Linked DNA regions of Homo sapiens: regions 1, 2 and 4 are each linked to region 3. Evidence: fine-mapped expression QTL. A gene starts in region 3. Each other region holds a variant in brackets. All regions are shown on one strand. Distances are between the middles of the regions. Region 1 overlaps KCTD2 (potassium channel tetramerization domain containing 2). Region 2 holds the start of TRR-CCT1-1 (tRNA-Arg (anticodon CCT) 1-1). Region 3 holds the start of CDR2L (cerebellar degeneration related protein 2 like). Region 4 overlaps MRPL58 (mitochondrial ribosomal protein L58).

Evidence for each region. PIP is the estimated chance that this variant, and not a neighbour inherited with it, causes the effect.
Region 1: its variant is the best candidate, but not a certain one, in a credible set for the expression of CDR2L in unexposed skin (GTEx, PIP 0.53).
Region 2: its variant is the best candidate, but not a certain one, in a credible set for the expression of CDR2L in unexposed skin (GTEx, PIP 0.50).
Region 4: its variant is the best candidate, but not a certain one, in a credible set for the expression of CDR2L in lung (GTEx, PIP 0.53).

The regions. Positions count from the first base shown.
Region 1 is chr17:75,050,178-75,055,544 of GRCh38, forward strand. It overlaps KCTD2 (potassium channel tetramerization domain containing 2), which reads left to right. Exons shown (of 6, transcript NM_015353.3): 3 at 2,837-2,928. Among named protein-coding and RNA genes, the nearest start is that of KCTD2, 5.6 kb to the left of the region's middle. The variant G/A (reference allele first, on the strand shown) is at 3,165.
Region 2 is chr17:75,032,538-75,037,904 of GRCh38, forward strand. TRR-CCT1-1 (tRNA-Arg (anticodon CCT) 1-1) reads left to right here and starts at 1,369; the gene lies at 1,369-1,441. TRR-CCT2-1 (tRNA-Arg (anticodon CCT) 2-1) reads right to left here and starts at 1,966; the gene lies at 1,894-1,966. TRR-TCG3-1 (tRNA-Arg (anticodon TCG) 3-1) reads left to right here and starts at 2,576; the gene lies at 2,576-2,648. It also overlaps a transcript of KCTD2 not described here. RefSeq lists enhancers at 1,171-2,152, 1,549-1,628, 1,659-1,728, 2,179-2,248 and silencers at 1,889-2,058, 2,619-2,748, 3,240-3,399. The variant C/T (reference allele first, on the strand shown) is at 2,652.
Region 3 is chr17:74,984,338-74,989,704 of GRCh38, forward strand. It overlaps CDR2L (cerebellar degeneration related protein 2 like), which reads left to right and starts at 3,295. Exons shown (of 5, transcript NM_014603.3): 1 at 3,295-3,785. The coding sequence starts at 3,707. LOC124904058 (a long non-coding RNA gene) reads left to right here. Exons shown (of 2, transcript XR_007065906.1): 2 at 1-512. RefSeq lists an enhancer at 3,133-3,634 and silencers at 3,201-3,280, 3,301-3,390.
Region 4 is chr17:75,015,899-75,020,898 of GRCh38, forward strand. MRPL58 (mitochondrial ribosomal protein L58) reads left to right here. Exons shown (of 6, transcript NM_001545.3): 2 at 1,180-1,216; 3 at 3,802-3,861; 4 at 4,415-4,497; 5 at 4,590-4,759. Among named protein-coding and RNA genes, the nearest start is that of MRPL58, 5.7 kb to the left of the region's middle. RefSeq lists an enhancer at 3,930-5,000. The variant A/G (reference allele first, on the strand shown) is at 2,947.

The sequences.
Region 1 (5,367 bases), 66 kb after region 3:
CTTCAACAATTACCAACTCATGGGTGATCTTAATCTTATTTATTTTTCTTTTTTAATTTTTGTAAGTACCTAGTAGGTGTATATATTTATGGGGTACATGAGATTTTTCTTTTTTTTTTCTTCGCTCAGGCTGGAGTGCACTGGCACAATCTTGACTCACTGCAACCTCAGCCTCCTGGGTTCAAGCGATTCTCCTGCCTCAGCCTCCCAAGTAGCTGGGATTACAGGCGTGCACCACCATGCTTGACTAATTTTTTGTATTTTTAGTAGAGACAGGGTTTCACCATGTTGACCAGGCTGGTCTTGAACTCCTAACCTCAAGTGATCCACCTGCCTCAGCCTCCCAGAGTGCTGGGATTACAGGCCTGAGCCTCCGCGCCCGACCTGAGATGTTTGGATATAGGCATGCAGTGTGAAATAAGCACATCATGGAGAATGGGGTATCCATCCCCTCAAGCATTTATCCTTTGTGATACAAAAATTCAATTACCCTCTTTTAGTTAAGTATCTTTTCTAATGCCTTTAATTAAAAAAACTTTATTTTGAAGTAATTTAAAACTTCAAAATAAGCAAGAAAAGAGCAAGAATAACACAGAGAACTCCCTATATCCCAGATTAACCAATTTTCAATGTTATTTTTGTCATATTTGGGGTATGGGGAGATCTTTTTGTTGTTTTTTTAAGAGTCAGAGTCTATCTTATCTTGCCCAGGCTGGTCTCAAATGTCTGGCCTCACATGCTCCTCCTGCCTCAGCCTCCTGAGTAGCTGCGATTATAGGCATGAGCCATCATGCCCAGCTTTTTTTTTTTTTTTGAGACGGAGTCTTGCTCTGTTGCCCAGGCTGGAGTGCAGTGGCGCAATCTCGGCTCACTGCAAGCTCCACCTCCCAGGTTCACGTCATTCTCCTGCCTCAGCCTCCCGAGTAGCTGGGACTATAGGCGCCCACCACCACACCCAGTTAATTTTTTGTATTTTTAGTAGAGACAGGGTTTCACCATATTAGCCAGGATGGTCTCATCTCGATCTCCTGACCTTGTGATCTGCCTGCCTCAGCCTCCCAAAGTACTGGGATTACAGACATGAGCCACCGCGCCCGACCTTTTTTTTTTTTTTTTTTTTTTTTGGCGACAGAGTCTCCCTCTGTTGCCCAGGCTGGAGTGCAATGGCACTATCACAGCTCACTGCGACATCCACCTCCCGGGTTCAAGCGATTTTCCTGCCTCAGCCTCCTGAGTACCTGGGATTACAGGTGCATGCCACCACGCCTGGCTAATTTTTTTATTTTTGGTAGAGACGGGGGTTTCACCATGTTGGTCAGGCTGGTCTTGAACTCCTGACCTCGTGATCCACCCGCCTTGGCCTCCCGAAATGCTGCGATTACAGGCGTGAGCCACCATGCCCGACCTTTTTTTTTTTTAAATCATATTTGCATTGTCCTTCATTCTCTATTTCCCCCTCCCTACCCCCATCCTCTTGCCTCTCCCACCACAGTTATTTCTGAACTATTTGAGAATAGATTGCAGATTTCACCCCTTAATATTTGTATATATTTCCCAAGAACAAGGATACTGTTTTATGTAACCACAGACAGTACAGTTATCAAACTCAGGAAATTTAATACTGATGCTTTTATCTACAGCTTATATTGCAGTTTTGTCAGTTGTCCTAATAATGGCCTTTATAGCAAATTTATTCCTATAGGATCACACGTCTCATAGTTGCCCTAAGGCCTTTGAGTTCATTTAGCATGCAAGTCTTTAAATGGTTGCCTTTTATATTGTTCAAATGATTAGCATCCTATTAAGTTTGGCCCACATAAATTTGTACACACACCTCCACCCCCACCCCCAGTCCTTTTGAGGGCAGATTGGACAAAAATATCAAGTTCAGGAGGTGTCCAACATGACTAGTTCCAGGAACTAAGTGACATATGGGAAAAGTGTCCTGCAGCTAATGGGCAGGTGCCAGGTAGGGAAAGGAGGGTTGAAATGGAGTGAGCAGAACATACCCTGGCGTTTGACTAATTTATGTTGGAGAAAAGGTCATGGGTTTACCGAAAATAGCAAAGAGATATTTCCTAGCAGAAGGAGAGAGATTGGATTTGCATTTAAATAATGCAGTTTTTAGGCCAGGAGCTGTGGCTCATGCCTGTAATCCCAACACTTGGAAGGCCAAGGTGGGCGGATCACTTGAGGTTAGGAGTTTGAGACCAGCCTGGCCAACATGGCAAAACCCCGTCTCTGCGAAAAATACAAAAATTGGCTGGGTGCGGTGGCTTTACGCCTGTAATCCCAGAACTTTGGGAGGCCAAGGCAGATGGATCACCTGAGGTCAGGAGTTCAAGACCAGCCTGACCAACATGATGAAACCCTGTCTCTACTAAAAATACAAAAAATTAGCCAGGCGTGGTGGCAAGCGCCTGTAATCCCAGCTACTTGGAAGGCTGAGGCAGCAGAATCTCTTGAACCCAGCAGGCGGAGTTTGCAGTGAGCCAAGATCATGCCATTGCACTCCAACCTGGGCAACAAGAATGAAACTCTGTTTCGGGCGGGGGGAAAAAATAGAAACAGCCGGGTGTGGTGGTATGTGCCTGTAGTCCCAGCTACTTGGGAGACTGAGGCAAGAGAATCATTTGAACGCAGGAGGCGGAGGTTGCCGTGAGCCAAGATCGCACCACTGAACTCCAGCCTGGGCGACAGAGTAAGACTCCGTCTCAAAAAATAAGTAAATAAATAAATAAGCAGTTTTTAGCAAGCATGTAACCTTCATCCTCTCCTTGGTGTTTTTCTGGCAAACCCTCGCACCTATCTGACTGCAGTTTTGTCCTTGTTCCAGGTGTGCTGGAGGAAGCGGAGTTTTACAACATCGCGTCCCTTGTGCGGCTGGTTAAGGAAAGGATACGGGACAATGAGAACAGAACTTCACAAGTAATGTATTTGGAACTGTTAAGGAGGGTTGTTTCAAGTGGGCTTCTGTCGGTCGGTCTGTGATTTGAAAAGGATGCCTTTACCCTTAGAGCTGGAGGTGTGTGTGGAACACCGTTTGCAGTGCAGGGAATGCACACTCAGCCAAACTGCACAGGAGAAAAGAAGAAACCACAAAGAAAACAGAATAGGCCTATGTCCCAATAGAATGAGAAGATTGTCGCTGCTTACCAGATGGC[G/A]GGAGGAGGCGCCCAGGGCACTTTAGGTCTAAAACCTGTTCTCTGCCCGAGTATGTCTCCCTCCTAAAGACCATAGAGGTCTTGGTTGCACCCGTTGGCCGCTCTTTTTTTTTTTATGAGATGGAGTCTCGCCCTGTCGCCCAGGCCGGAGTGCAGTGGTGCAATCTCGGCTCACTGCAACCTCTGCCTCCCAGGTTCAAGTAATTCTCCTGCCTCAGCCTCCCGTGTAGCTGGGACTACAGGTGTGTGCCACCACGCCTGACTAATTTTTGTATTTTTTTAGTAGAGATGGGGTTTCACCATGTTGGTCAGGCTGGTCTCGAACTCCCGACCTCAGGTGATCTGCCCGCCTCAGCCTCCCAAAGTGCTGGGATTACAGGCGTGAGGCACTGCGCCCAGCTTGGCCACTCTTTATGGAGATGAGCCTTTAGCATGTGATCGAGTCACATGCAGCTCCTGTGAGCCACTTGAAACCAGTCTCATGGGGTACGCTTCAGCAGCTGCTTGTGAACCATGCTTTTTTTTTTTTTTTTTTTTTTTTTTGAGACAGAGTCTCACTCTCTCCCCCAGGCTGGCCTCCCAAAGTGCTAGGATTACAGGAGTGAGCCACCACACCCAGCCTGAACCATGCTTCTAAGAACATAATATCAAGCTGCTCTTTATGATGGTGTCTTGATTTTGGCGGGGAGAGGGAGGACAAGGTCTCACTCCCGTTGCCCAGGTTGGAGTGCAGTGGCGTGATCACAGCTCACTGCAGCCTTGGCTTCCCAGGCTCAGGTGATTTTCCTACCTCAGCCTACCGAGTAGCTGGGACTACAGCTGCAAGCTACCACACCTGGCTAATTTTTTGTATTTTGGGTAGAAACGAGCCTTGTTGGCCAGGCTGGTCTCAAACTCCTGAACTCAAGCAACCCGCCCACCTCATCCTCCCAAAGTTCTGGAATTACAGGTGTGAGCTACCGCACCTGGCCTTGATTTTGATATTAACTCAGATACAGTAACAAGAGCGAAAGGGAATTTGCCCACCTAGTTAGAGGAAAGAAAGATGTTACGGCACATCTATTTCACATCCTGCCATTCGTCATATGTTTGTCGTGTGTTTGAATGGCCATAATAGCTTCTATTTGGCCCTTGGGATTCTGTAAGTAATTGAAAGTCCTTGCCCTCAAGAAGCTTGAAGTCGGCCGGGCGCGGTGGCTCACGCCTGTAATCCCAGCACTTTGGGAGGCCGAGACGGGCAGATCATGAGGTCAGGAGATCGAGACCATCCTGGCTAACACGGTGAAACCCCGTCTCTACTAAAAATACAAAAAAAATTAGCCAGGCATGGTGATGGGTGCCTGTAGTCCCAGCTGCTCGGGAGGCTGAAGCAGGAGAATGGTGTGAACCCAGGAGGCGGAGCTTGTAGTGAGCCAAGATCGCACCACTGCACCACTCCAGCCTGGGCGACAGAGGGAGACTCCATCTCAAAAAAAAAAAAAAGAAGCTTGAAGTATAGCCAGGAAAATAGACCCTCTCTTTCATGCGATTAGACTGTTTTAAGAAACTGCAACTACAGAGTTAACAGTAAGAAGGCAGAGTCGTGCTCCACCATGACTACCTGTGTTGTAGCATAATTGCCTCTTTTCCCATCAGATACTGGTAGTAGATGCTTTAGGTATAATCTATTGCAGCACAGAATTTTCCTGCCATTAAGAAGGCAGGAAAATTATTCTTTTTTCTTCTTTTTTTGAGGCAGAGTTTTCCTCTGTCACCCAGGCAGGAGTGCAGTGGCATGATCTCGGCTTACTGCAACCTCTGCCTCCCAGGTTCAAGCGATTCTCATGTCTCAGCCACCTGAGTAGCTGTGATTACAGGTGTGTGCCACAATGCCTGGCTAATTTTTGTATTTTTAGTAGAGATGGTGTTTCGCCATATTGACCAGGCTGGTCTTGAACTTCAGGCCTCAAGTGATCCACTTGCCTCAGCCTCCCAAAGTGCTGGGATTACAGGCATGAGGCACCATGCCTGGCATAAGTTTACTTTTAAAAGTAAAAAATAATGCCTTGGTCTTTCTATGTTAGATTTCATATATCAAAGTTTTCTGGCTCTAGGCCAGGTATGGTGGCTCACGCCTGTAATCCCAGCACTCTGGGAGGCTGAGGAGGGCAGATCACTTGAGGTCAGGAGTTCAAGACCAGCCTGGCCAACATGGTGAAACCCT
Region 2 (5,367 bases), 48 kb after region 3:
GTCATGAAGGGGAGTGGCCTTGGGAGGACAGCTGATCAGTGTGGTTTTGCCTTCGAGGAGGGGTGCCCAGTGGTGATGCCCAGGAGAGGGAATGGAAACCTGGAGCTGGGAGTGAGGTTAGAGCTGTAAGATCCAAGACCCAGGGAGACAAGAGGACCCTGGGGACGAATAGGAACAGCTGAGCAAGGCAAGGCTGAGCCCCGGGCGGGCGGGTTGGGGGAACATGCCTAGCTAGAGGGCGGCAGCAGGAAAGCAGAGAAGGCATCCCTGCAGGTTGGCCCTGGGGCAGAGTGCTGGATCCCAGCAACGGACAAGTTAGTTAACTTAAAGGGGGGCATCCTCAAGGCAGTAAACTGGAGCCAAGTGGGTTAAATCCTTCTTGCTGCTATTAAGGGGAGGAGACAGGTTTCTGCAGACTCTACATTTTGGAGAGAAACAGAAAAGAATGTCCCCAAGTCTCCTTTGCCCTGCGATGCTGGGGCAGATTGGCAAGGTCCCAAGAGAAGCACAATGGTAACCGACGCTGCCCTTGGCTGAACTTCTTCTGTTAAATCCTTCGGATGTGAGTAGACTTTTATTTAATAATTTTTTTTCTTTTTTTTCTTTTTTTCAAATGAGACTGCATCTCGCTATGTTGCCCAGGCTGGTTTTGAACTCCTGGGCTCAAGCAATCCCCCCACCTCACCCTCCCAAAGTGCTGGGATGCTGGGATTACAGGCGTGAGCCACCGCACCCGGTCTGTAGCCTTTAATAATGGATTTTAAATGTGTGTAACATTTTAAAATGTGCTTATTCTTTGTTAGAATTAGGGTGAAATATCTACTTGGCTGATTTTCCTTTCTATCTATACTTGTAGTATCTAGTATATATATATTTCTACTATTACAACTGGAAGAACTTGTTCCCCCTGGTTGTACATTCCCTCATGATAAGCAAGATTTTCAGTGTTTATGTTTCAATATTCATGATTAATACTTGTCTGTTCTCCTTCACTTCCTACGCTACTTTTTCCTAAAATTCCTGGATTTTTTATCAGTTCTGTAGAGGCGGACAGCAAGGCTCAGGGCGGTAGGAAGGAAACTCCTCCAAACCTCAGTCTTCATACCCCATGGTCCGGGTGTCCAGGCAACCACCAAGCGGACCCTCGGGGCTCCATGGGGCGTCCCAGTGCCGGGGGCTGGGGGCTGGTGCTCGCTAAGTAAGGATGGGGGCAGGTCCCTGCGCACCGCGGTATCTTCCCGCCCGCTCACCAAAAGTGCGCGCGGCAGGGACGGACCCACTCCATGGATCGCGCCTCTGTCAGGCCTTCTCTAGGAAAAGGGGACACTCGCTTATGAGGGGAAGGGATGGCACGGCCACGTGCCCCAAGCCCCAGTGGCCTAATGGATAAGGCACTGGCCTCCTAAGCCAGGGATTGTGGGTTCGAGTCCCACCTGGGGTAGAGGTGAAAGTTCCTTTTACGGAATTTTTTATTTCTTTTCTCTTCCCTTCTCAGGGATGCTGGAATCGACCTTGGTCTCTAGTTCGACTCCCGTGCAACGTGTTGAGGAGGAGCCACCTCCTCCAAGCGCCTAAAGCCGGTAAGCTCGGGTCTTGCCAAGCCCTTGAATGAACAGCTTTCGTCCGGGTAGGGCCCCACAATTTCGAAGCTGGGGAAACTCGTAAGAATAAAGTTGCCCAAAGGGTTCCCAGGACACCCCAGCTCCACCTGGCGGGGCAGCCCCGGAGAACCAGAGGTAAATGACCACCGCGACTGCAAACAGAGGGTCCTGCAAGAGAAGGCGAGGGGCGCAAACAGGGCAGAGGCAAGCAGGTAGCGGGCAGGTGGTGGTGGATTCTGAGGTCTCTGGCTGCCGGCACCAAAAGAAACCTTGCGAGCACAGCCCCTCTCGACACCCCAGGTGGGACTCGAACCCACAATCCCTGGCTTAGGAGGCCAGTGCCTTATCCATTAGGCCACTGGGGCGCGGTAAGACGCTAAACCCACGTGCTCCTTGATAGGTGTTCAACCATAGTGCCCAAACACGGCCCTGCTGTGGGTCACCGCGCTCCAAGCCTGAGAAGCCATGGGGACGACAGGATGAACCGCTGGCTGGGCGCGGCGTCCCCACCGGGCTACACAAGAGCTCCATGCGGTGACGACGCGCGGGGACCAGGAGCCCGCGGTGCCCTGTAACCCCGAGAAGAAGTGCTCGGCGAGCGCAGAGGCCGGTGGAGCATAGCTGGGAGGAATAGGGATGGACGAGGGCGGAGGGAAGAACAAACCCTCAAACTATGCTGGGATTCGGGCAAGGGCTGCTCGCTCCAAAAGAGCCCGACCACAAAGGAACCCTCAATCTTATGATCTGACGTCAGACGCCTCATCCCTTAGGCCACGCGGTCGCAATTCCCAGGGAGGCTCAGAGACTAGTCCAGGTGCCGCTCCGCTCGGGGGTGACTAGGCGGGCGGCTGGGGCCAGAGGAAGGGTGAGCGCTTCGCTCAACAGGCGGCCAGGGTGCGAGCAGTGAAGCTGCGGCACGCCGGAGCGTTTAATGGCCATCAAATTGGCCTCTCTAGGAGGTAGCTGCAGCCGGAGACCGCGTGGCCTAATGGATAAGGCGTCTGACTTCGGATCAGAAGATTGAGGGTTCGAGTCCCTTCGTGGTCGGAA[C/T]GTTTTAATCCCTGCAACTATAATCTTCCCTCCCTTGTTTTAGACCCAGAAACGCCTCCCAATCCCTCCACACCGCGGCTCCCGGGATCCGAAGCTGGGGAGCTGCTTCTGTCCAATCAGGCTTTGCATCCCGGGACGCTTCCGGTTATGGCGTCATTATGCAGCCAGGGTAAGTAGGGCCCCATTTCTTGTTGTCTCTCTTGAGCTGGTACCTGGAACGAGTTCAACATCCAAACATTCGCCTCGTAAACGTGCTCTACAAGCTACAATCCCACAAGCAAATGACACGGAGCGGGTTATGTTTCAGTCTATCGTTATGAAGTTAAACAGCAGACAAAACTCCAGTCTCTGGCCGGGCCCAATGGCTCACGCCTGTAATCCCAACACTTTGGGAGGCTGAGGCGGGCGGATCACGAGGTCAAAGTTCGAGACCCGCCTGACCAACATGGTGAAACCCCGTCTCTACTAAAAATACAAAAATACAAAAATTAGCCGGCCAATCGTGGTGGCACGCGCCTGTAAACCCAGCTACTCAGGAGGCGGAGGCAGCAGGAGAATCGCTTGAATCCAGGAGGCCGAGGTTGCAGTGAGCCGTGATCGCGCCACTGCACTCCAGCCTGGGCAACAGAGCGAAAGCCGTCTCAAAACAAACAAACAAACAAACAAACAAAAAACTCCAGTCCCTAGCCTCAAGGGCAGTGGGGGTGCTGCCCAACTCTGTGGCCTCAGTCCTGCTAGTGGGCTCTGTCCACACTCACACGGCACCCACCACCCCACTACTCTGTGCTTGGAGGAAGAGGGTGTCAGGATGCATGTGTGTGCAAGTGTACTTGGACATAGGGGAGAATAAATGCTAATTTTTTTTTTCTTTTTCTTCTTCCCTGAGACGGAGTCTCGCTCTGTCACCCAGGGTGGAGTGCAGTAGCGTGATCTCGGCTCACTTCAAGCTCCACCTCCTGGGTTCACGCCATTCTCCTGCCTCATCCTCCCAAAGTGTTGAGATTACAGGCGTGAGCCACTGGGCCCGGCCAGGGAATGGAGTTTTGTCTGCAGCAGACAAACAAGCTGGGGCTACAGGCGCCCGCCACCACACTGGCTAATTTTTTGTATTTTTAGTATAGACGGGGTTTCACCGTGTTAGCCAGGATGGTCTCAATTTCCTGACCTAGTGATCCGCTCACCTCGGCCTCCCGAAGTGTTGTGATTACAGGCGTGAGCCACCGCGCCCTGCCCAATTACCTTTTTAATGTAAAATTAATGCATGTACAACGCAAAAATGCTGAACAATCCAAGAGGGCATAAAAAATAAAAGTACCCCCTTCCCACCCACGTGCCTTTAGCTGAGCCTGTTCCCAGTTGTTTGTTCACTGTTATTTAGCACAGGGAATCTCCCAAAGGGCTCCCCCTAATGCTGGGGTTGCCCCCTTCACATCCCAACACCTTCACGGGGCTCAGCGGTGCTCTCCTTGAACAGCGCGAGCTCTAACTATGCTCCAAGTAAACTGCATTTTTTCTCACATCCCTGCGCTTTCACTTGGCTGTCGTCTGCATCCTCAGATCCTCAGCGGGATGGCTGAGTGCCAGTTCAGTGACTGCAGTCTCGCAGGGGAAGGGTGTGGTACTTCTGTTACGCACATTAAAGGCCTTGCACAGCTACCGCTCCTCATCTCTGCCCAGTCTTCTTGTTGACTCAAGCAGTTTTGGGGGGAGTAGACTCCGCCCCTCCGCTGCCTTTCATCTTCAACCCGGCCTTACTCCTACCAATCAGGAGCCATGCACCCAGGCTCTCCTCTGCTTATGTTAAGACTACGCTGATTTCTCGAGGGTTGTCAGGCATTGTTGCTCTTCTCCAATATACTCCGCCTGCAAAAATGGGCCAGGTGCGGTGGCTCACGCCTGAAACCCCAGCACTTTGGGAGGCCAAGGCGGGCAGATCACGAGGTCAGGAGATCGAGACCGTCCTGCCTAACACGATGAAACCCCGTCTCTACTAAAAATACAAAAAATGAGCGGGGCGTGGTGGCGGGCGCCTGTACTCCCAGCTACTCTGGAGGCTGAGGCAGGAGAATGGTGTGAACCCGGGAGGCAAAGGTTGCAATGAGCAGAAATCGTGCCACTGCACTCCAGCCTGGGCGACAAAGCAAGATTCCATATCAGAAAAAAAAAAAAAAAAAAAGAAATGGCAGAAATGTCACAAGTCTCCCCTGCGTAGACCATGCAGACTTTTCCTACAGGATTTAAGCCACATCAAGTCAGCCTTTGCTTACTTTCTTACCTAGAAACTTCCCAGGTTATCTCATTTAATTCTCATTACAATCCTGATATTTGTAAATGAGAAAATTAAATTCTCAAGACAGTAAACAATCTAAAATCAGCAATTGGGTTGTAGGCATAACAGGTCCTCTGACTTTAAGGACAATTCTTTCTACCACCATACTTTTTTCTTTAAATACTTGCATTACTCTATGATCTACTACCTTGCTTTAAACCATCTCTATTGCCTGACGTTGCTCAGGTCTGCTAACCATAGTAAATAGTGGGGATTTTAAAAATTAAGTTAAAATAATTCTCCATGTTCAGGCTGGATGCAGTGGCCCACGCCTGTAATCCCAGCACTTTGGGAGGCTGAGGCGGGCGGATCACAAGGTCAGGAGATCGAGACCATCCTGGCTAACATGGTGAAACCCCGTCTCTACTAAAAATAAAACAAATTAGC
Region 3 (5,367 bases):
CTCCCAAAGTGCTGGGATTACAGGCGTGAGCCACTGCACCTGGCCATGAACTTTATATAAAATGGAATCATGCAGTGCTGTGATAGAATCATAACCACTAAAGATATCCACATCCTAACCCCCAGAATCTCTGAATATGTTACCTTGCCCAACATAAGGGACTTTGCAGATGTGATTTAGTTAAAGACATTGAGACAGGGAGATTATGCTGTATTATTCAGTGTGCCCAGTTTAAGCAGAAGAGTCCTTTATAAGAGGGAGGTGGAAAAGGTAAGAGTGATGGGATGTGAAAAAGACTCCACCTTCTGTTGCTGACTTTGAAGATTGACAAAGAGGCCATGAGCCAAGGACTATGGGGTGGCCTCTAGAAGGTGCAAAAGACAAGGAAACAGATACTCCCCTGGAACCTCCAGAAGGAACACAGCTTCTACCAATGCTTTGACTTTAGCCAGTGATCCTTGTCAGACTTCTACAGAATTATAAAATAATAAATTTGTGTTGTTTCAAGCCCATTAAATTTGGGGTCATTTGTTACAGAAGCAATAAGAGACAAATACAGGTATTTACTCTTTGTGTCTGGCATCTTTCACTCAACTTTTTTTTTTTAGCCCAAGCCCATGACAGTAGATCATTGTATTTGTACTATATAACATTCCATTACATGAACATGCCACATATTCTTCGTCAACTGTTGATGGACATTTGTGTTGTTTCCAGTGTGGGCGCTTATGAATACTGTGGCTATGAACTTTCTTGTACATGTCTTTGGGATAAGGTATGTGCATATTTCTCTTGCACATATATAGGAATAGAATTTCTGGGTTATAGGGTATGCATGTATAGTGGCTGCTGTGATGTATCCCCAACTCTTTCAGAACGAAAGGACCTATTCCCTTAGCTGCTGGGAGGACCCCTGGCTGGCAGTCCCAGCTGCCAGGGCTCTGTGCAAACTAGTCTCAGCTGAAAAGAACTTATTTGGCCAAGGTCACACATGCCTCCTAGGAACGACCTGTGTCATTCAATGACTGGTTGATATGTAAGGGTGGGGGATATAAAGGCCCCCTCCCCCAATGATACCTGGAATAGCTTTGAAGGGTCACCCTGGATTCAAAGTTCTTCAGGGATCAGAGGAGGCTTTTGCAGAGGCTACATACCAACCCAGCTTCTCCCCCACCAACCCTGCTTCCCTCCCTTTCCTGCAGGTGTTGATCATGAGAGCACTCCCTAGTCAACTTTCTTTCTTTTTTCTCCCTCTAATCCAATATGATTGATATCCCTAATCAACTTCCTGCATGCTAATCTCCATCTCAGGATCAGCTGCCTGGGAACACAACCTACAACAGCTTACGTTATTCAGCTTTCATGGTTATCAAGCAGTCTTTTTTTTTTTTTTTTCCAAGACGCAGTCTTGCTCTATCGCCCAGGCTGGGTGCAGTGGCGCAATCTCAGCTCACTGCAACTTCCGCCTCCCAGGTTCAAGCAATTCTCCTGCCTCAGCCTCCCAAGTAGCTAGGACTACAGGCATGTGCCACCATGCCCAGCTAATTTTGTATTTTTAGTAGAGACAGGGTTTCACCATGTTTCCCAGGCTGGTCTTGAACTCCTGACCTCAAGCGATCCACCCTCCTTGGCCTTCCAAAGCGTTGGGAATTACAGGCATGAGCCACCACGCCCGGGCAGTTTTCTAAAGTGGTTGTCGTCCTATGTATTCCCTCCAGCAGGGTGAGAGAGTTCCAGTTGCTCAACATTCTTGCCAATACTAGGTATTTTTTGTCTTTTTTTTTTTTTTTTTTTTTTTTTTTTTGAGACAGGATCTTGCTCTGTCACCCAGGCTGGAGTGCAGTGGCATGACCACAGCTCCCTACAGCCTCAACCTCCTAGACTCAAGCAATTCTCCCACCTCAGCCTCCCAAAGTATCTGGGACTACAGCCGTGTGTCATTATGCCCACCTAATTTTTATTTTTAAATTTTTTTATAGAAATAGGATCTTGCTATGTTGCCCAGGCTGCTCTTGAACTCCAGGCTCAAGTGATCCTCCCAACCTCGGCCTCCCCAGAGTTCTGGGATTATAGGCATGAACCACCACGCCTGGCCTTTTTTTTTTTTTTTTTTTTCCCTAAAGCCACTCTGGTGATTGGGTAGTGATACCTCATTGTGGTTTTCATTTGCATTTTTCTGATGGCTAAAGAAGTTCAGTACCTTGTTGCATATTTATTCAGTTATTTGTGTATCCTTTTTTGTGAATTACCTGGTCAAATCTTTTACCCACTTTTCTACTGGGTTGCGTGCCTTTTTCTTATGACTATGCAGATGTTCTTTCTGTATTCTGGATACAAGTCATTCGTTGGGTATATCACAACATTATTCAGAGATTCTCAACGGCACCAGCACATTAGGGTCCCAATAAAAATGAGTTACGTGAATGCTTGAGTCCGAACACTCTTCTAAGGAAAGAATGCTTGGACAGATGCAAGTGTGTATAGTTTTAATGGGTATAATTGGATATAGGATATGGGTCCCAAGGAAAGGAAAACAGAACCTTGAATGCAGGTAACACACCCTCAAACTTTGCCACTTTCAGCCTGTGGTTTCTAGCCACAAGCACTTAAACACGCAGTTCCCAAAGGCAACTGTAAATTAGTATTCATTCATTCAAAGAATGTCGATGGAAGGTATCAATGACCAGCATGTTGTTTGTTTTTTGTTTGTTTGTTTTTTGAGGCAGAGTCTCCCTCTGTCGCCCAGGCTGGAGTGCAGTGGCGCTATCTTGGCTCACTGCAACCTCTGCCTCCAGGGTTCAAGCGATTCTCCTGCCTCAGCCTCCCGAGTAGGCATGCGCCACCATGCCCAGCTAATTTTTGTATTTTTAATGGAGACGGGGTTTCGCCATGTTGGCCAGGCTGGTCTCGAAACCCCTGACCTCAGGCGATCTGCCCGCCTTGGCCTCCCAAGGTGCTGGAATTACAGGAGTCAGGCATCGCGCCCGACTGGTGAGCAGCCTGTTCTAGGAAGTGAGTAGCCAGCTGTGAAAGAGAAACAATATTCTTGCTTCCAGGAGATCTAGGAGAGACGACAACTTCTAAAATAGCATAATTTTAGACATGAGACATAAACTGAATAGGTCGTAGGGGGAAGTAGGACGAAAGGGTTGATCAAGCAATTCCCAGACCAAGACACCAGGAGGGTCCCGCCCTCGGCCCCGCCTCCAGCTTTGCATACATCTCCTGATTGGTCGGCGGCGGCAGGCCCCACCCCGCGGAGCCGAGCTCCGCAAGCTGCAGGCGGGCTCCGCCAAGATGCAGCGGCGGCTCCGGTTGTCGCCGGGCGGGCCAGGAGCAGCGCGGACCCGAGCCGGGCAGGGGGCGCCCGCCACGGCACCCGCGCGCTCCTAGCGCCCCAGACCCGCCTGCGGGCCCGGATCCTCCTTGCCACTGTCCCACCCGCCGTCCCTGCCACTCCACCCTTTGTGTCGCCGCAGCCCGGTGCCCCCGGCTCTGCGGGACCCCGGCCGGGCCGGACCCTGGCAAAGCGCCAGGCCCCGCGTGGGCTCCCGGCGAGCGGTTGATGGCGAGGGGGCGCGGCGCGGGCTCTGTAGCCCGAGTTCCCGACGCTGGAGGCCCGGCCCGCCTCAGCCGCATTGTCCCGGGCCGCGCGCACCGGCCCTGAGCTGCGCCGCCGCAGCACCCGCCCGCCGCCCGCGGGGCCATGCGGAGAGCCGCCGGGATGGAGGACTTCTCCGCGGAGGAAGAGGAGTCCTGGTACGACCAGCAGGACCTGGAGCAGGGTGAGCGCGGGGGCGACCGGGACAGGAAGGCGGGGAGCGCCCGGTGACCCCTGTCCGCTTCTCCATTGTTGGGCGCTATCACCCCGGGAGGGGCTGGGCTGGACCGGGCGCGCCCGACTCGGAGGAGGGACGCGTCTGGAGAACCGGGACGTGGAGAGAGGGGGCGCTGCCGGAGAAGACGCGGACCGGACGGGCGGAGACCTGCAAAAGTGGGGGGCGGGGGGCGGTCTTCCTATTTTCCCAGACGACCGGGCATCCGTCATCCAGCTCGCCCACCCCGTCCTGGAGGCAGCAACTGCTCGGCCGCCCCTGGTATTGTTACGGGGCCTGAGCGCTAGCTAGGAGTCTTCTGAGGCCGGGAGGCGGCTCCTTCGTCATGTTTTGCTGGGAGGGTGGCTTGTGTGTAGAGGGAAGTTATCTCACGCCAAATCCAGCAGCACCCGTCCCTGACAGGAATTATGAGCTCTAAGACTCCTAGAAAGTTTCCCTAACTCGCTTCCTACTCAGGGAGAAGTGGTACCGCGTCTTTGCTGGTGAAGAAGCAGAAAGTCAAGTCTCCCATCTGCCTTCGAGAGTCAGGAGTCGCTTAGCCCTCCCCTGCCCGGTCCCCTTGCAAATGGCTCATGGTTTGGAGGGGGTCAGGTTCGGGAATCCCGGCCAGTGTGCCAGGCGAGAGACCGAATAAAGAGGGATACATCTCCGCTGCCCCCAGTTGCCATCTGAGGACAGAAAGGGCGACTGGAAGGGGGTTAGAAGCTGGTGATGAGGTGGCCGAAATGACATCACTGGGAGTGGGGGGTGGGGCTGTTGGGACAGAAAGGAAGAGGAGGCCTGCTGGAGTGGAGTCAGTTCTATCCTCTCCTCCCCTAAGATGCCTCCTTCTTGGATGGTGAGAGCTGGAAGGGGCGAGGAAACATGTCCAGGGAGAAGTGACCTTCCCATGGCCTCCAGCAAGCTGGGGGGTGTGGACATAAGTCTGCTGCAGTTTGTGCCATTGTGGCCTGCTGTGGTGTGCCCACACCCTGGTCTCCATCCACAAGGCTCCAGAGGGCTGGCTTTGCCCTGATGTGCAGCAGCTATCCGGATTCTGAAGCCCCTGACCTACTTCCCCACATGGCCAAGACTGGCTGGCAGATGAGGCTCTGTCCTTGTGCTGAGGACAAGGGTTAATCATAGCCTCAGGGGGACCAGGGTGGGACTGGGGATGCTGGACTAGGCCCTGCCATGGTCTGTGCCCTGGACTCTGGCCTCAGCCTCCTTGGCTGAAATGAGATACAGCTCCTCTCAAACACACACACACACACACACACACACACACACACACATCCACACATTGTGACAACCCCCTCTCCCATCCTGGGCAGTAAATTTTTCCATGAACACCTATTAGGCTCCCCTTAAGTACCAGACACCATCCTGGGAGCTAGGAATAGTCACAGCCCTGACCCTGAAGGTATACCCTGGCAGGTGAAGGAGGCAGGCTTGTAACTAAGTGTAGGTGGCACAGTATTTTTTTCTTTTTTCTTTTTATTTATTTATTTATTTATTTTCAGACAGAGTCTCCCTCTGTCACCCAGGTTGG
Region 4 (5,000 bases), 31 kb after region 3:
CTCAGCCTCCCCCAGTAGCTAGGATTACAGGTGTGTGCCACCATGCCTAGCTAATTTTGTATTTTTAGTAGAGGGGAGGTTTCACCATGTTGTCCAGGCTGGTCTCCAACTCCTGACTTGAAGTGATCCACCCGTCTCGGCCTCCCAAAGTGCTGGGATTACGGCGTGAGCCACTGCACCCGGCCAACTCCCAAATAATTCTAAGATAAAAGAAATGAAGACAGGCTGGGCGTGGTGGCTCACGCCTGTAATCTTAGCACTTTGGGAGGCCAAGGCGGGCAGCTCTCTTGAGGTCAGGAGCTCGAAACCAGTCTGGCCAACATGGTGAAACCCCATCTCTACTAAAAATACAAAAAAAAAAAACAACAATAGCTAGGCATGGTGGCATGCGCCTGTAATCCCAGCTACTCAGGAGGCTGAGGCAGGAGAATCACTTGAACCCAAGAGGCGGAGGTTGCAGTGAGCTGAGATCGCACTATTGTACTCCAGCCTGGGCTACAGAGCGAGACTCCATCTCAAAAAAAAAAGAAATGAAGGCAGTCGGGAGTGCACCTGAGGATACTGATGCTTTGAGCCTGGAGGGCCAGAAAAGCCTCGGAGTGGGTGGCGTTTGCACTGGGCCTTGTGGATACAAAGATTTAAGGCTGAAGGGCGTTGCTGCTTGAGGAACAGCAAGAGAGAGAGAGACATGGAGGTGAGAAGTCCTGGAGTGAGTAGTTAGTTTGACAGAAACCCTCAGGGTGCAATTATAGTCACTGTCCAAGGTGGACTGCCTTGTGTGGGAGTCTCCTGTGGCCCCGGAAAGAACAGGGTGGCCCACCAGGCTTGTTGCTCCAGGTTGACAGAGGGTGTTGCTTTTGGAGGTTCCCTGATGCATGTGCACTGTGGCTCCCCCTCCCGCTGGAGCCAGGCCTCTGATGGTGCCTGACACTAGCTAAGGCTAGGGCAGGGAAGGCTGGAGACATCAGATCCATTTTCGTAGAGGAGTGTTTCTGAGGTGGTACCTCTGGAGTCTGAGGATGCTTTTTCTGTCATCGTGATATCATTTTGCAGGGGACCTGAAAATACTAATGTACAATGTTTGTGTTGTGGCTTTACATCATTTCTTTGTTGCCTTGAACCAGTTAGGAGTCACCCAGCAGGTAATATTTATTTGACACTGTGTACATTACATTACAGAATGGTGCAAAGCAAGCCGACAGTGACATCCCTCTAGGTAAGTAATTTTGTTTTCTTAAAAATCAGTTGGCTGCGTGGTGGCATGTGCCTGTAATCCCAGTTACTTGGGAGGCTGAGGCAGGAGAATCGCTTGAACCCAGGAGGTGGAGGTTGCAGTGGGCCGAGTTTGTGCCATTGCACTCCAGCCTGGGCAACGAGAGCAAAACTCTATCTGGAAAAAATTAAAAATTAAAAAAAAAAAATCATGCCTGTTGGCCGGGCATGGTGTCTCATACCTGTAATCCCAACAATATGGGAGGCCAAGGTGGGTAGATCACTTGAGGCCAGGAGTTTGAGACCAGCATGGCCAACATGGTGAAACCCCATCTCTACTAAAAATACAAAAATTAGGCCAGGCGCAGTGGCTCACGCCTATAATTCCAACATTTTGGGAGGCCAAGGCAGCTGGATCATCCGAGGTCAGGAGTTCAAGACTAGCCTGGCCAACATGGCAAAGCCCCATCTCTACTAAAAATACAAAATTAGCCGGGTGTGGTGGCGAGGGCCTGTAATCCCAGCTACTTGGGAGGCTGAGGCAGAAGAATTGCTTGAACCCGGAAGGCAGAGGTTGCAGTGAGCTGAGATCCTGCCATTGCACTCCAGCCTGGGCAACAGAGTAAGACTCTGTCTCAAAAATAAATAAATAAAAATACAAAAATTAGCCGGGTGTGGTGGTGGGCGCCTGTGATCCCAGCTACTCGGAAGGCTGAGGCACAAGAATCACTTGAGCCTGGGAAGCAGAGGTTGTGGTGAGTTGAGATCGCACCACTGCACTCCAGCCTGGGCGACACAGCGAGACTCTGTCTCAGACGAAAAAAAAAAAATCAGTCATTTCTCTAATCCTTCACACATTCCTTCCAGATCTCTCCAGCCCAATTAAAGTAAAGAGACTATCTCGGGTGTGCAGAAGTAGAATCTTTGCAGCATTATTTAGAATAGCAAATAAATGATGGTGTGGCCAGTCGCATCGTACTGTGCCGTGTGCCACGTGAGTGTAGAGCTCTTGACATTCTCATGACGTGGAGCACTCTTTACAATAGATGAATTGAAAGAGGAAGACACAGGAGAGTTTATAAGCTACCATTTGTTTTTTACATATCTATATCTCTGAAATATCTTTTTTTTTTTTCTTTGAGATGGAGTCTCGCTCTGTCACCCAGGCTGGAGTGCAGTGGCCCGATCTCGGCTCACTGCAAGTTCCGCCTCCCAGGTTCACACCATTCTCCTGCCTCAGCCTCCCGAGTAGCTGGGACTACAGGTTCCCACCACCACGCCCGGCTAATTTTTTGTATTTTTTAGTAGAGACGGGGTTTCACCATGTTAGCCAGGATGGTCTCGATCTCCTGACCTCATGATCTGCACACCTCAGCCTCCCAAAGTGCTGGGATTACAGGTGTGAGCCACCGTGCCCAGCCTGAAATATCTATTTCTGAATATCTGTATCTATATTTATATCCCTATCTGTGTAGAGAGATATCTATATCTGAAAGGAACACCCTGGATACAGTGACTGCCTGGAGGAATAGAGAGATAAGACAAACTTGGTGGCTGAGAGACAAGAGTGAAAGACATTTCCATGTAAATAAACCATTTACATAACTGTAAAATTTTTTACCTGTCAAGCATAAGCAAGGCCTAACAGTTACAGCCTGTAAAGAAACAATGAGCCTTTTTTAGATTCGGAGAGTGTATGACTTCCATAGACAGTGCGAGGAAGAGCAGCCAAAG[A/G]TGCTGGCTCCCTGTGGCCCTTGCTCAAGATGACTCAAACAGAGGCCAGATGACCACAACCCAAGGGACAGGACACCCTGTGGCTGAGGAGCGAATACCATGCTGCAGTGAAGCAGTTTTGTAGCTTGAAGCTGTGCCCGCCTGTAGTCTCAGCTACTTGAGAGGCTGAGGTGGAAGGATCCCTTGAGCCCGGGATGTTCGCTTCAGCCTGGGATGTTGAGGCTGCAGTGAGCCGTCATTGTGCCACTGGACTCCAGCCTGGGTGCCAGAGTGAGACCCTGTCTCAAAAAAAAAAAAAATGAAGCTGTGCCCTAAGGGGTGCATGTGTGTAGGGGAGGAGGCAGAAAGCCTCCTATCTCATCAGAACTGGAGGCGAAGAGAAGTGTCTTGTGACAGCCTCCTAGGGGGAGACAGGCAGGCAAGTGGGCAGTAGCTCGGTAGTAGCTCCTCACCAGCCTCCCACACTCTCATGGATCCCGAAGCGTTCCATTCCTATGAAGACTTTGGTCAGCTGCAGCTCAAGCTTTGGCCATGTGCAAGGTTGCCAGCAATCACCATGGCAGAACTGTTCCCCTGCAGTGGCACGTGTACTTGTTACCTAGTCAGAAAGTGGATTTAATTTGATTTTTCCAAAGGAGGAAATCCTCTTAAAAGCAGTCCCAAGATGAGTCACTACTGCTCACTGGGACCAGCTCTCTGCCACCGTGGTGCCACAGTTCCTTGCCACCCAAACTTCTTGCAGTTTTTGAAATTTTCCCAATATAATACCTTCCCTACATTCCTCAGACACAACAAGACTGCTTTTCATGCCATGAGGTAATCAGTTTTGTGTGTGTACTTTCTTCTGTTTTACAGATCGCTTGACAATATCTTATTGTCGGAGTAGTGGTCCTGGGGGGCAGAATGTGAACAAAGGTACGGGGTGCCTTGTTGCTTTCTTTTGCTTTAAAATGTAGCTGGGAGATGGGCTTGAGGAGCTCTGTGTTTGTGTTCATATGGAATAAAGGGATTTTTCAGCAGAAGCTTTAATACTGCCAGCTTATAATAATCCTCTTTATTCTTTTGAATGTGGTCTGATTCTCAGACATTCAGCTGTGGGTTGCTAGGACTAGGATCGGCTTGTGAGTCTAAACAAAGAGAAATCACAGTTGTGAGGTGGCAGCCAGCTCCAAGAACAGGTTTCTTTCATTCTGGTGCAACCCATTCCCTCCATTTTTTTTTTTTTTTTTTTTGAACCCAGTAAAACTGTAAGAGAAGGACTGGGTGCTTAGTTACTGGAAGTCTATTTTTGCCCAAAAGTGCCTCACTGTCTTTGCGGGCTTGTTCATAGCCAACTTGGACATAGGCTACAATGTACATGGTTAGGTGTCTGGCCTCCCTTTATTTCAGAATGGTCACTGGTCACCCAGGGGTTGATCCTTCCTGGAAGTCTCAGGCACCCATGCTCCCTTCTCCCTTTCCTCCACAGTGAATTCCAAGGCAGAAGTCAGGTTCCATTTGGCAACTGCCGAGTGGATCGCGGAGCCCGTGCGGCAGAAGATAGCCATCACGGTAACCACCATCCCTTTCTTTCCCTAGAAATCCCTCAGTGGCTTTTAAACCTTTACTCTGTAGGACTCCAGTTTTTCATTTGTTCTCTGCAGCATAAAAACAAGATCAACAGGTTAGGAGAGTTGATCCTCACCTCTGAGAGCAGCCGCTATCAGTTCCGGAATCTGGCAGATTGCCTGCAGAAAATTCGAGACATGATCACTGAGGCCAGCCAGACACCGAAGGAGCCAACAAAAGAAGATGTTAAACTTCATAGAATCAGGTACCAGGAAATGCCCTAAGATGCTATAAACTGATTTGTGTGGACAAGAGTCTACACAGGTAAGGAAGGGGCAGGGGAGAGTCCAAGGCCGGCCTTGGGAGAAACTCTAGGAAGAGGAGAGGATGCTGACCTGGGACCGAGGCCTGCGGGCTAGTGCCTGCTGGTGTAACTGCTCGGCTTCCCGTTGAGCTCCCAACTCCTCTCACCACTTTGAAAAGCACTGATTGGGCATCTGGGGCTA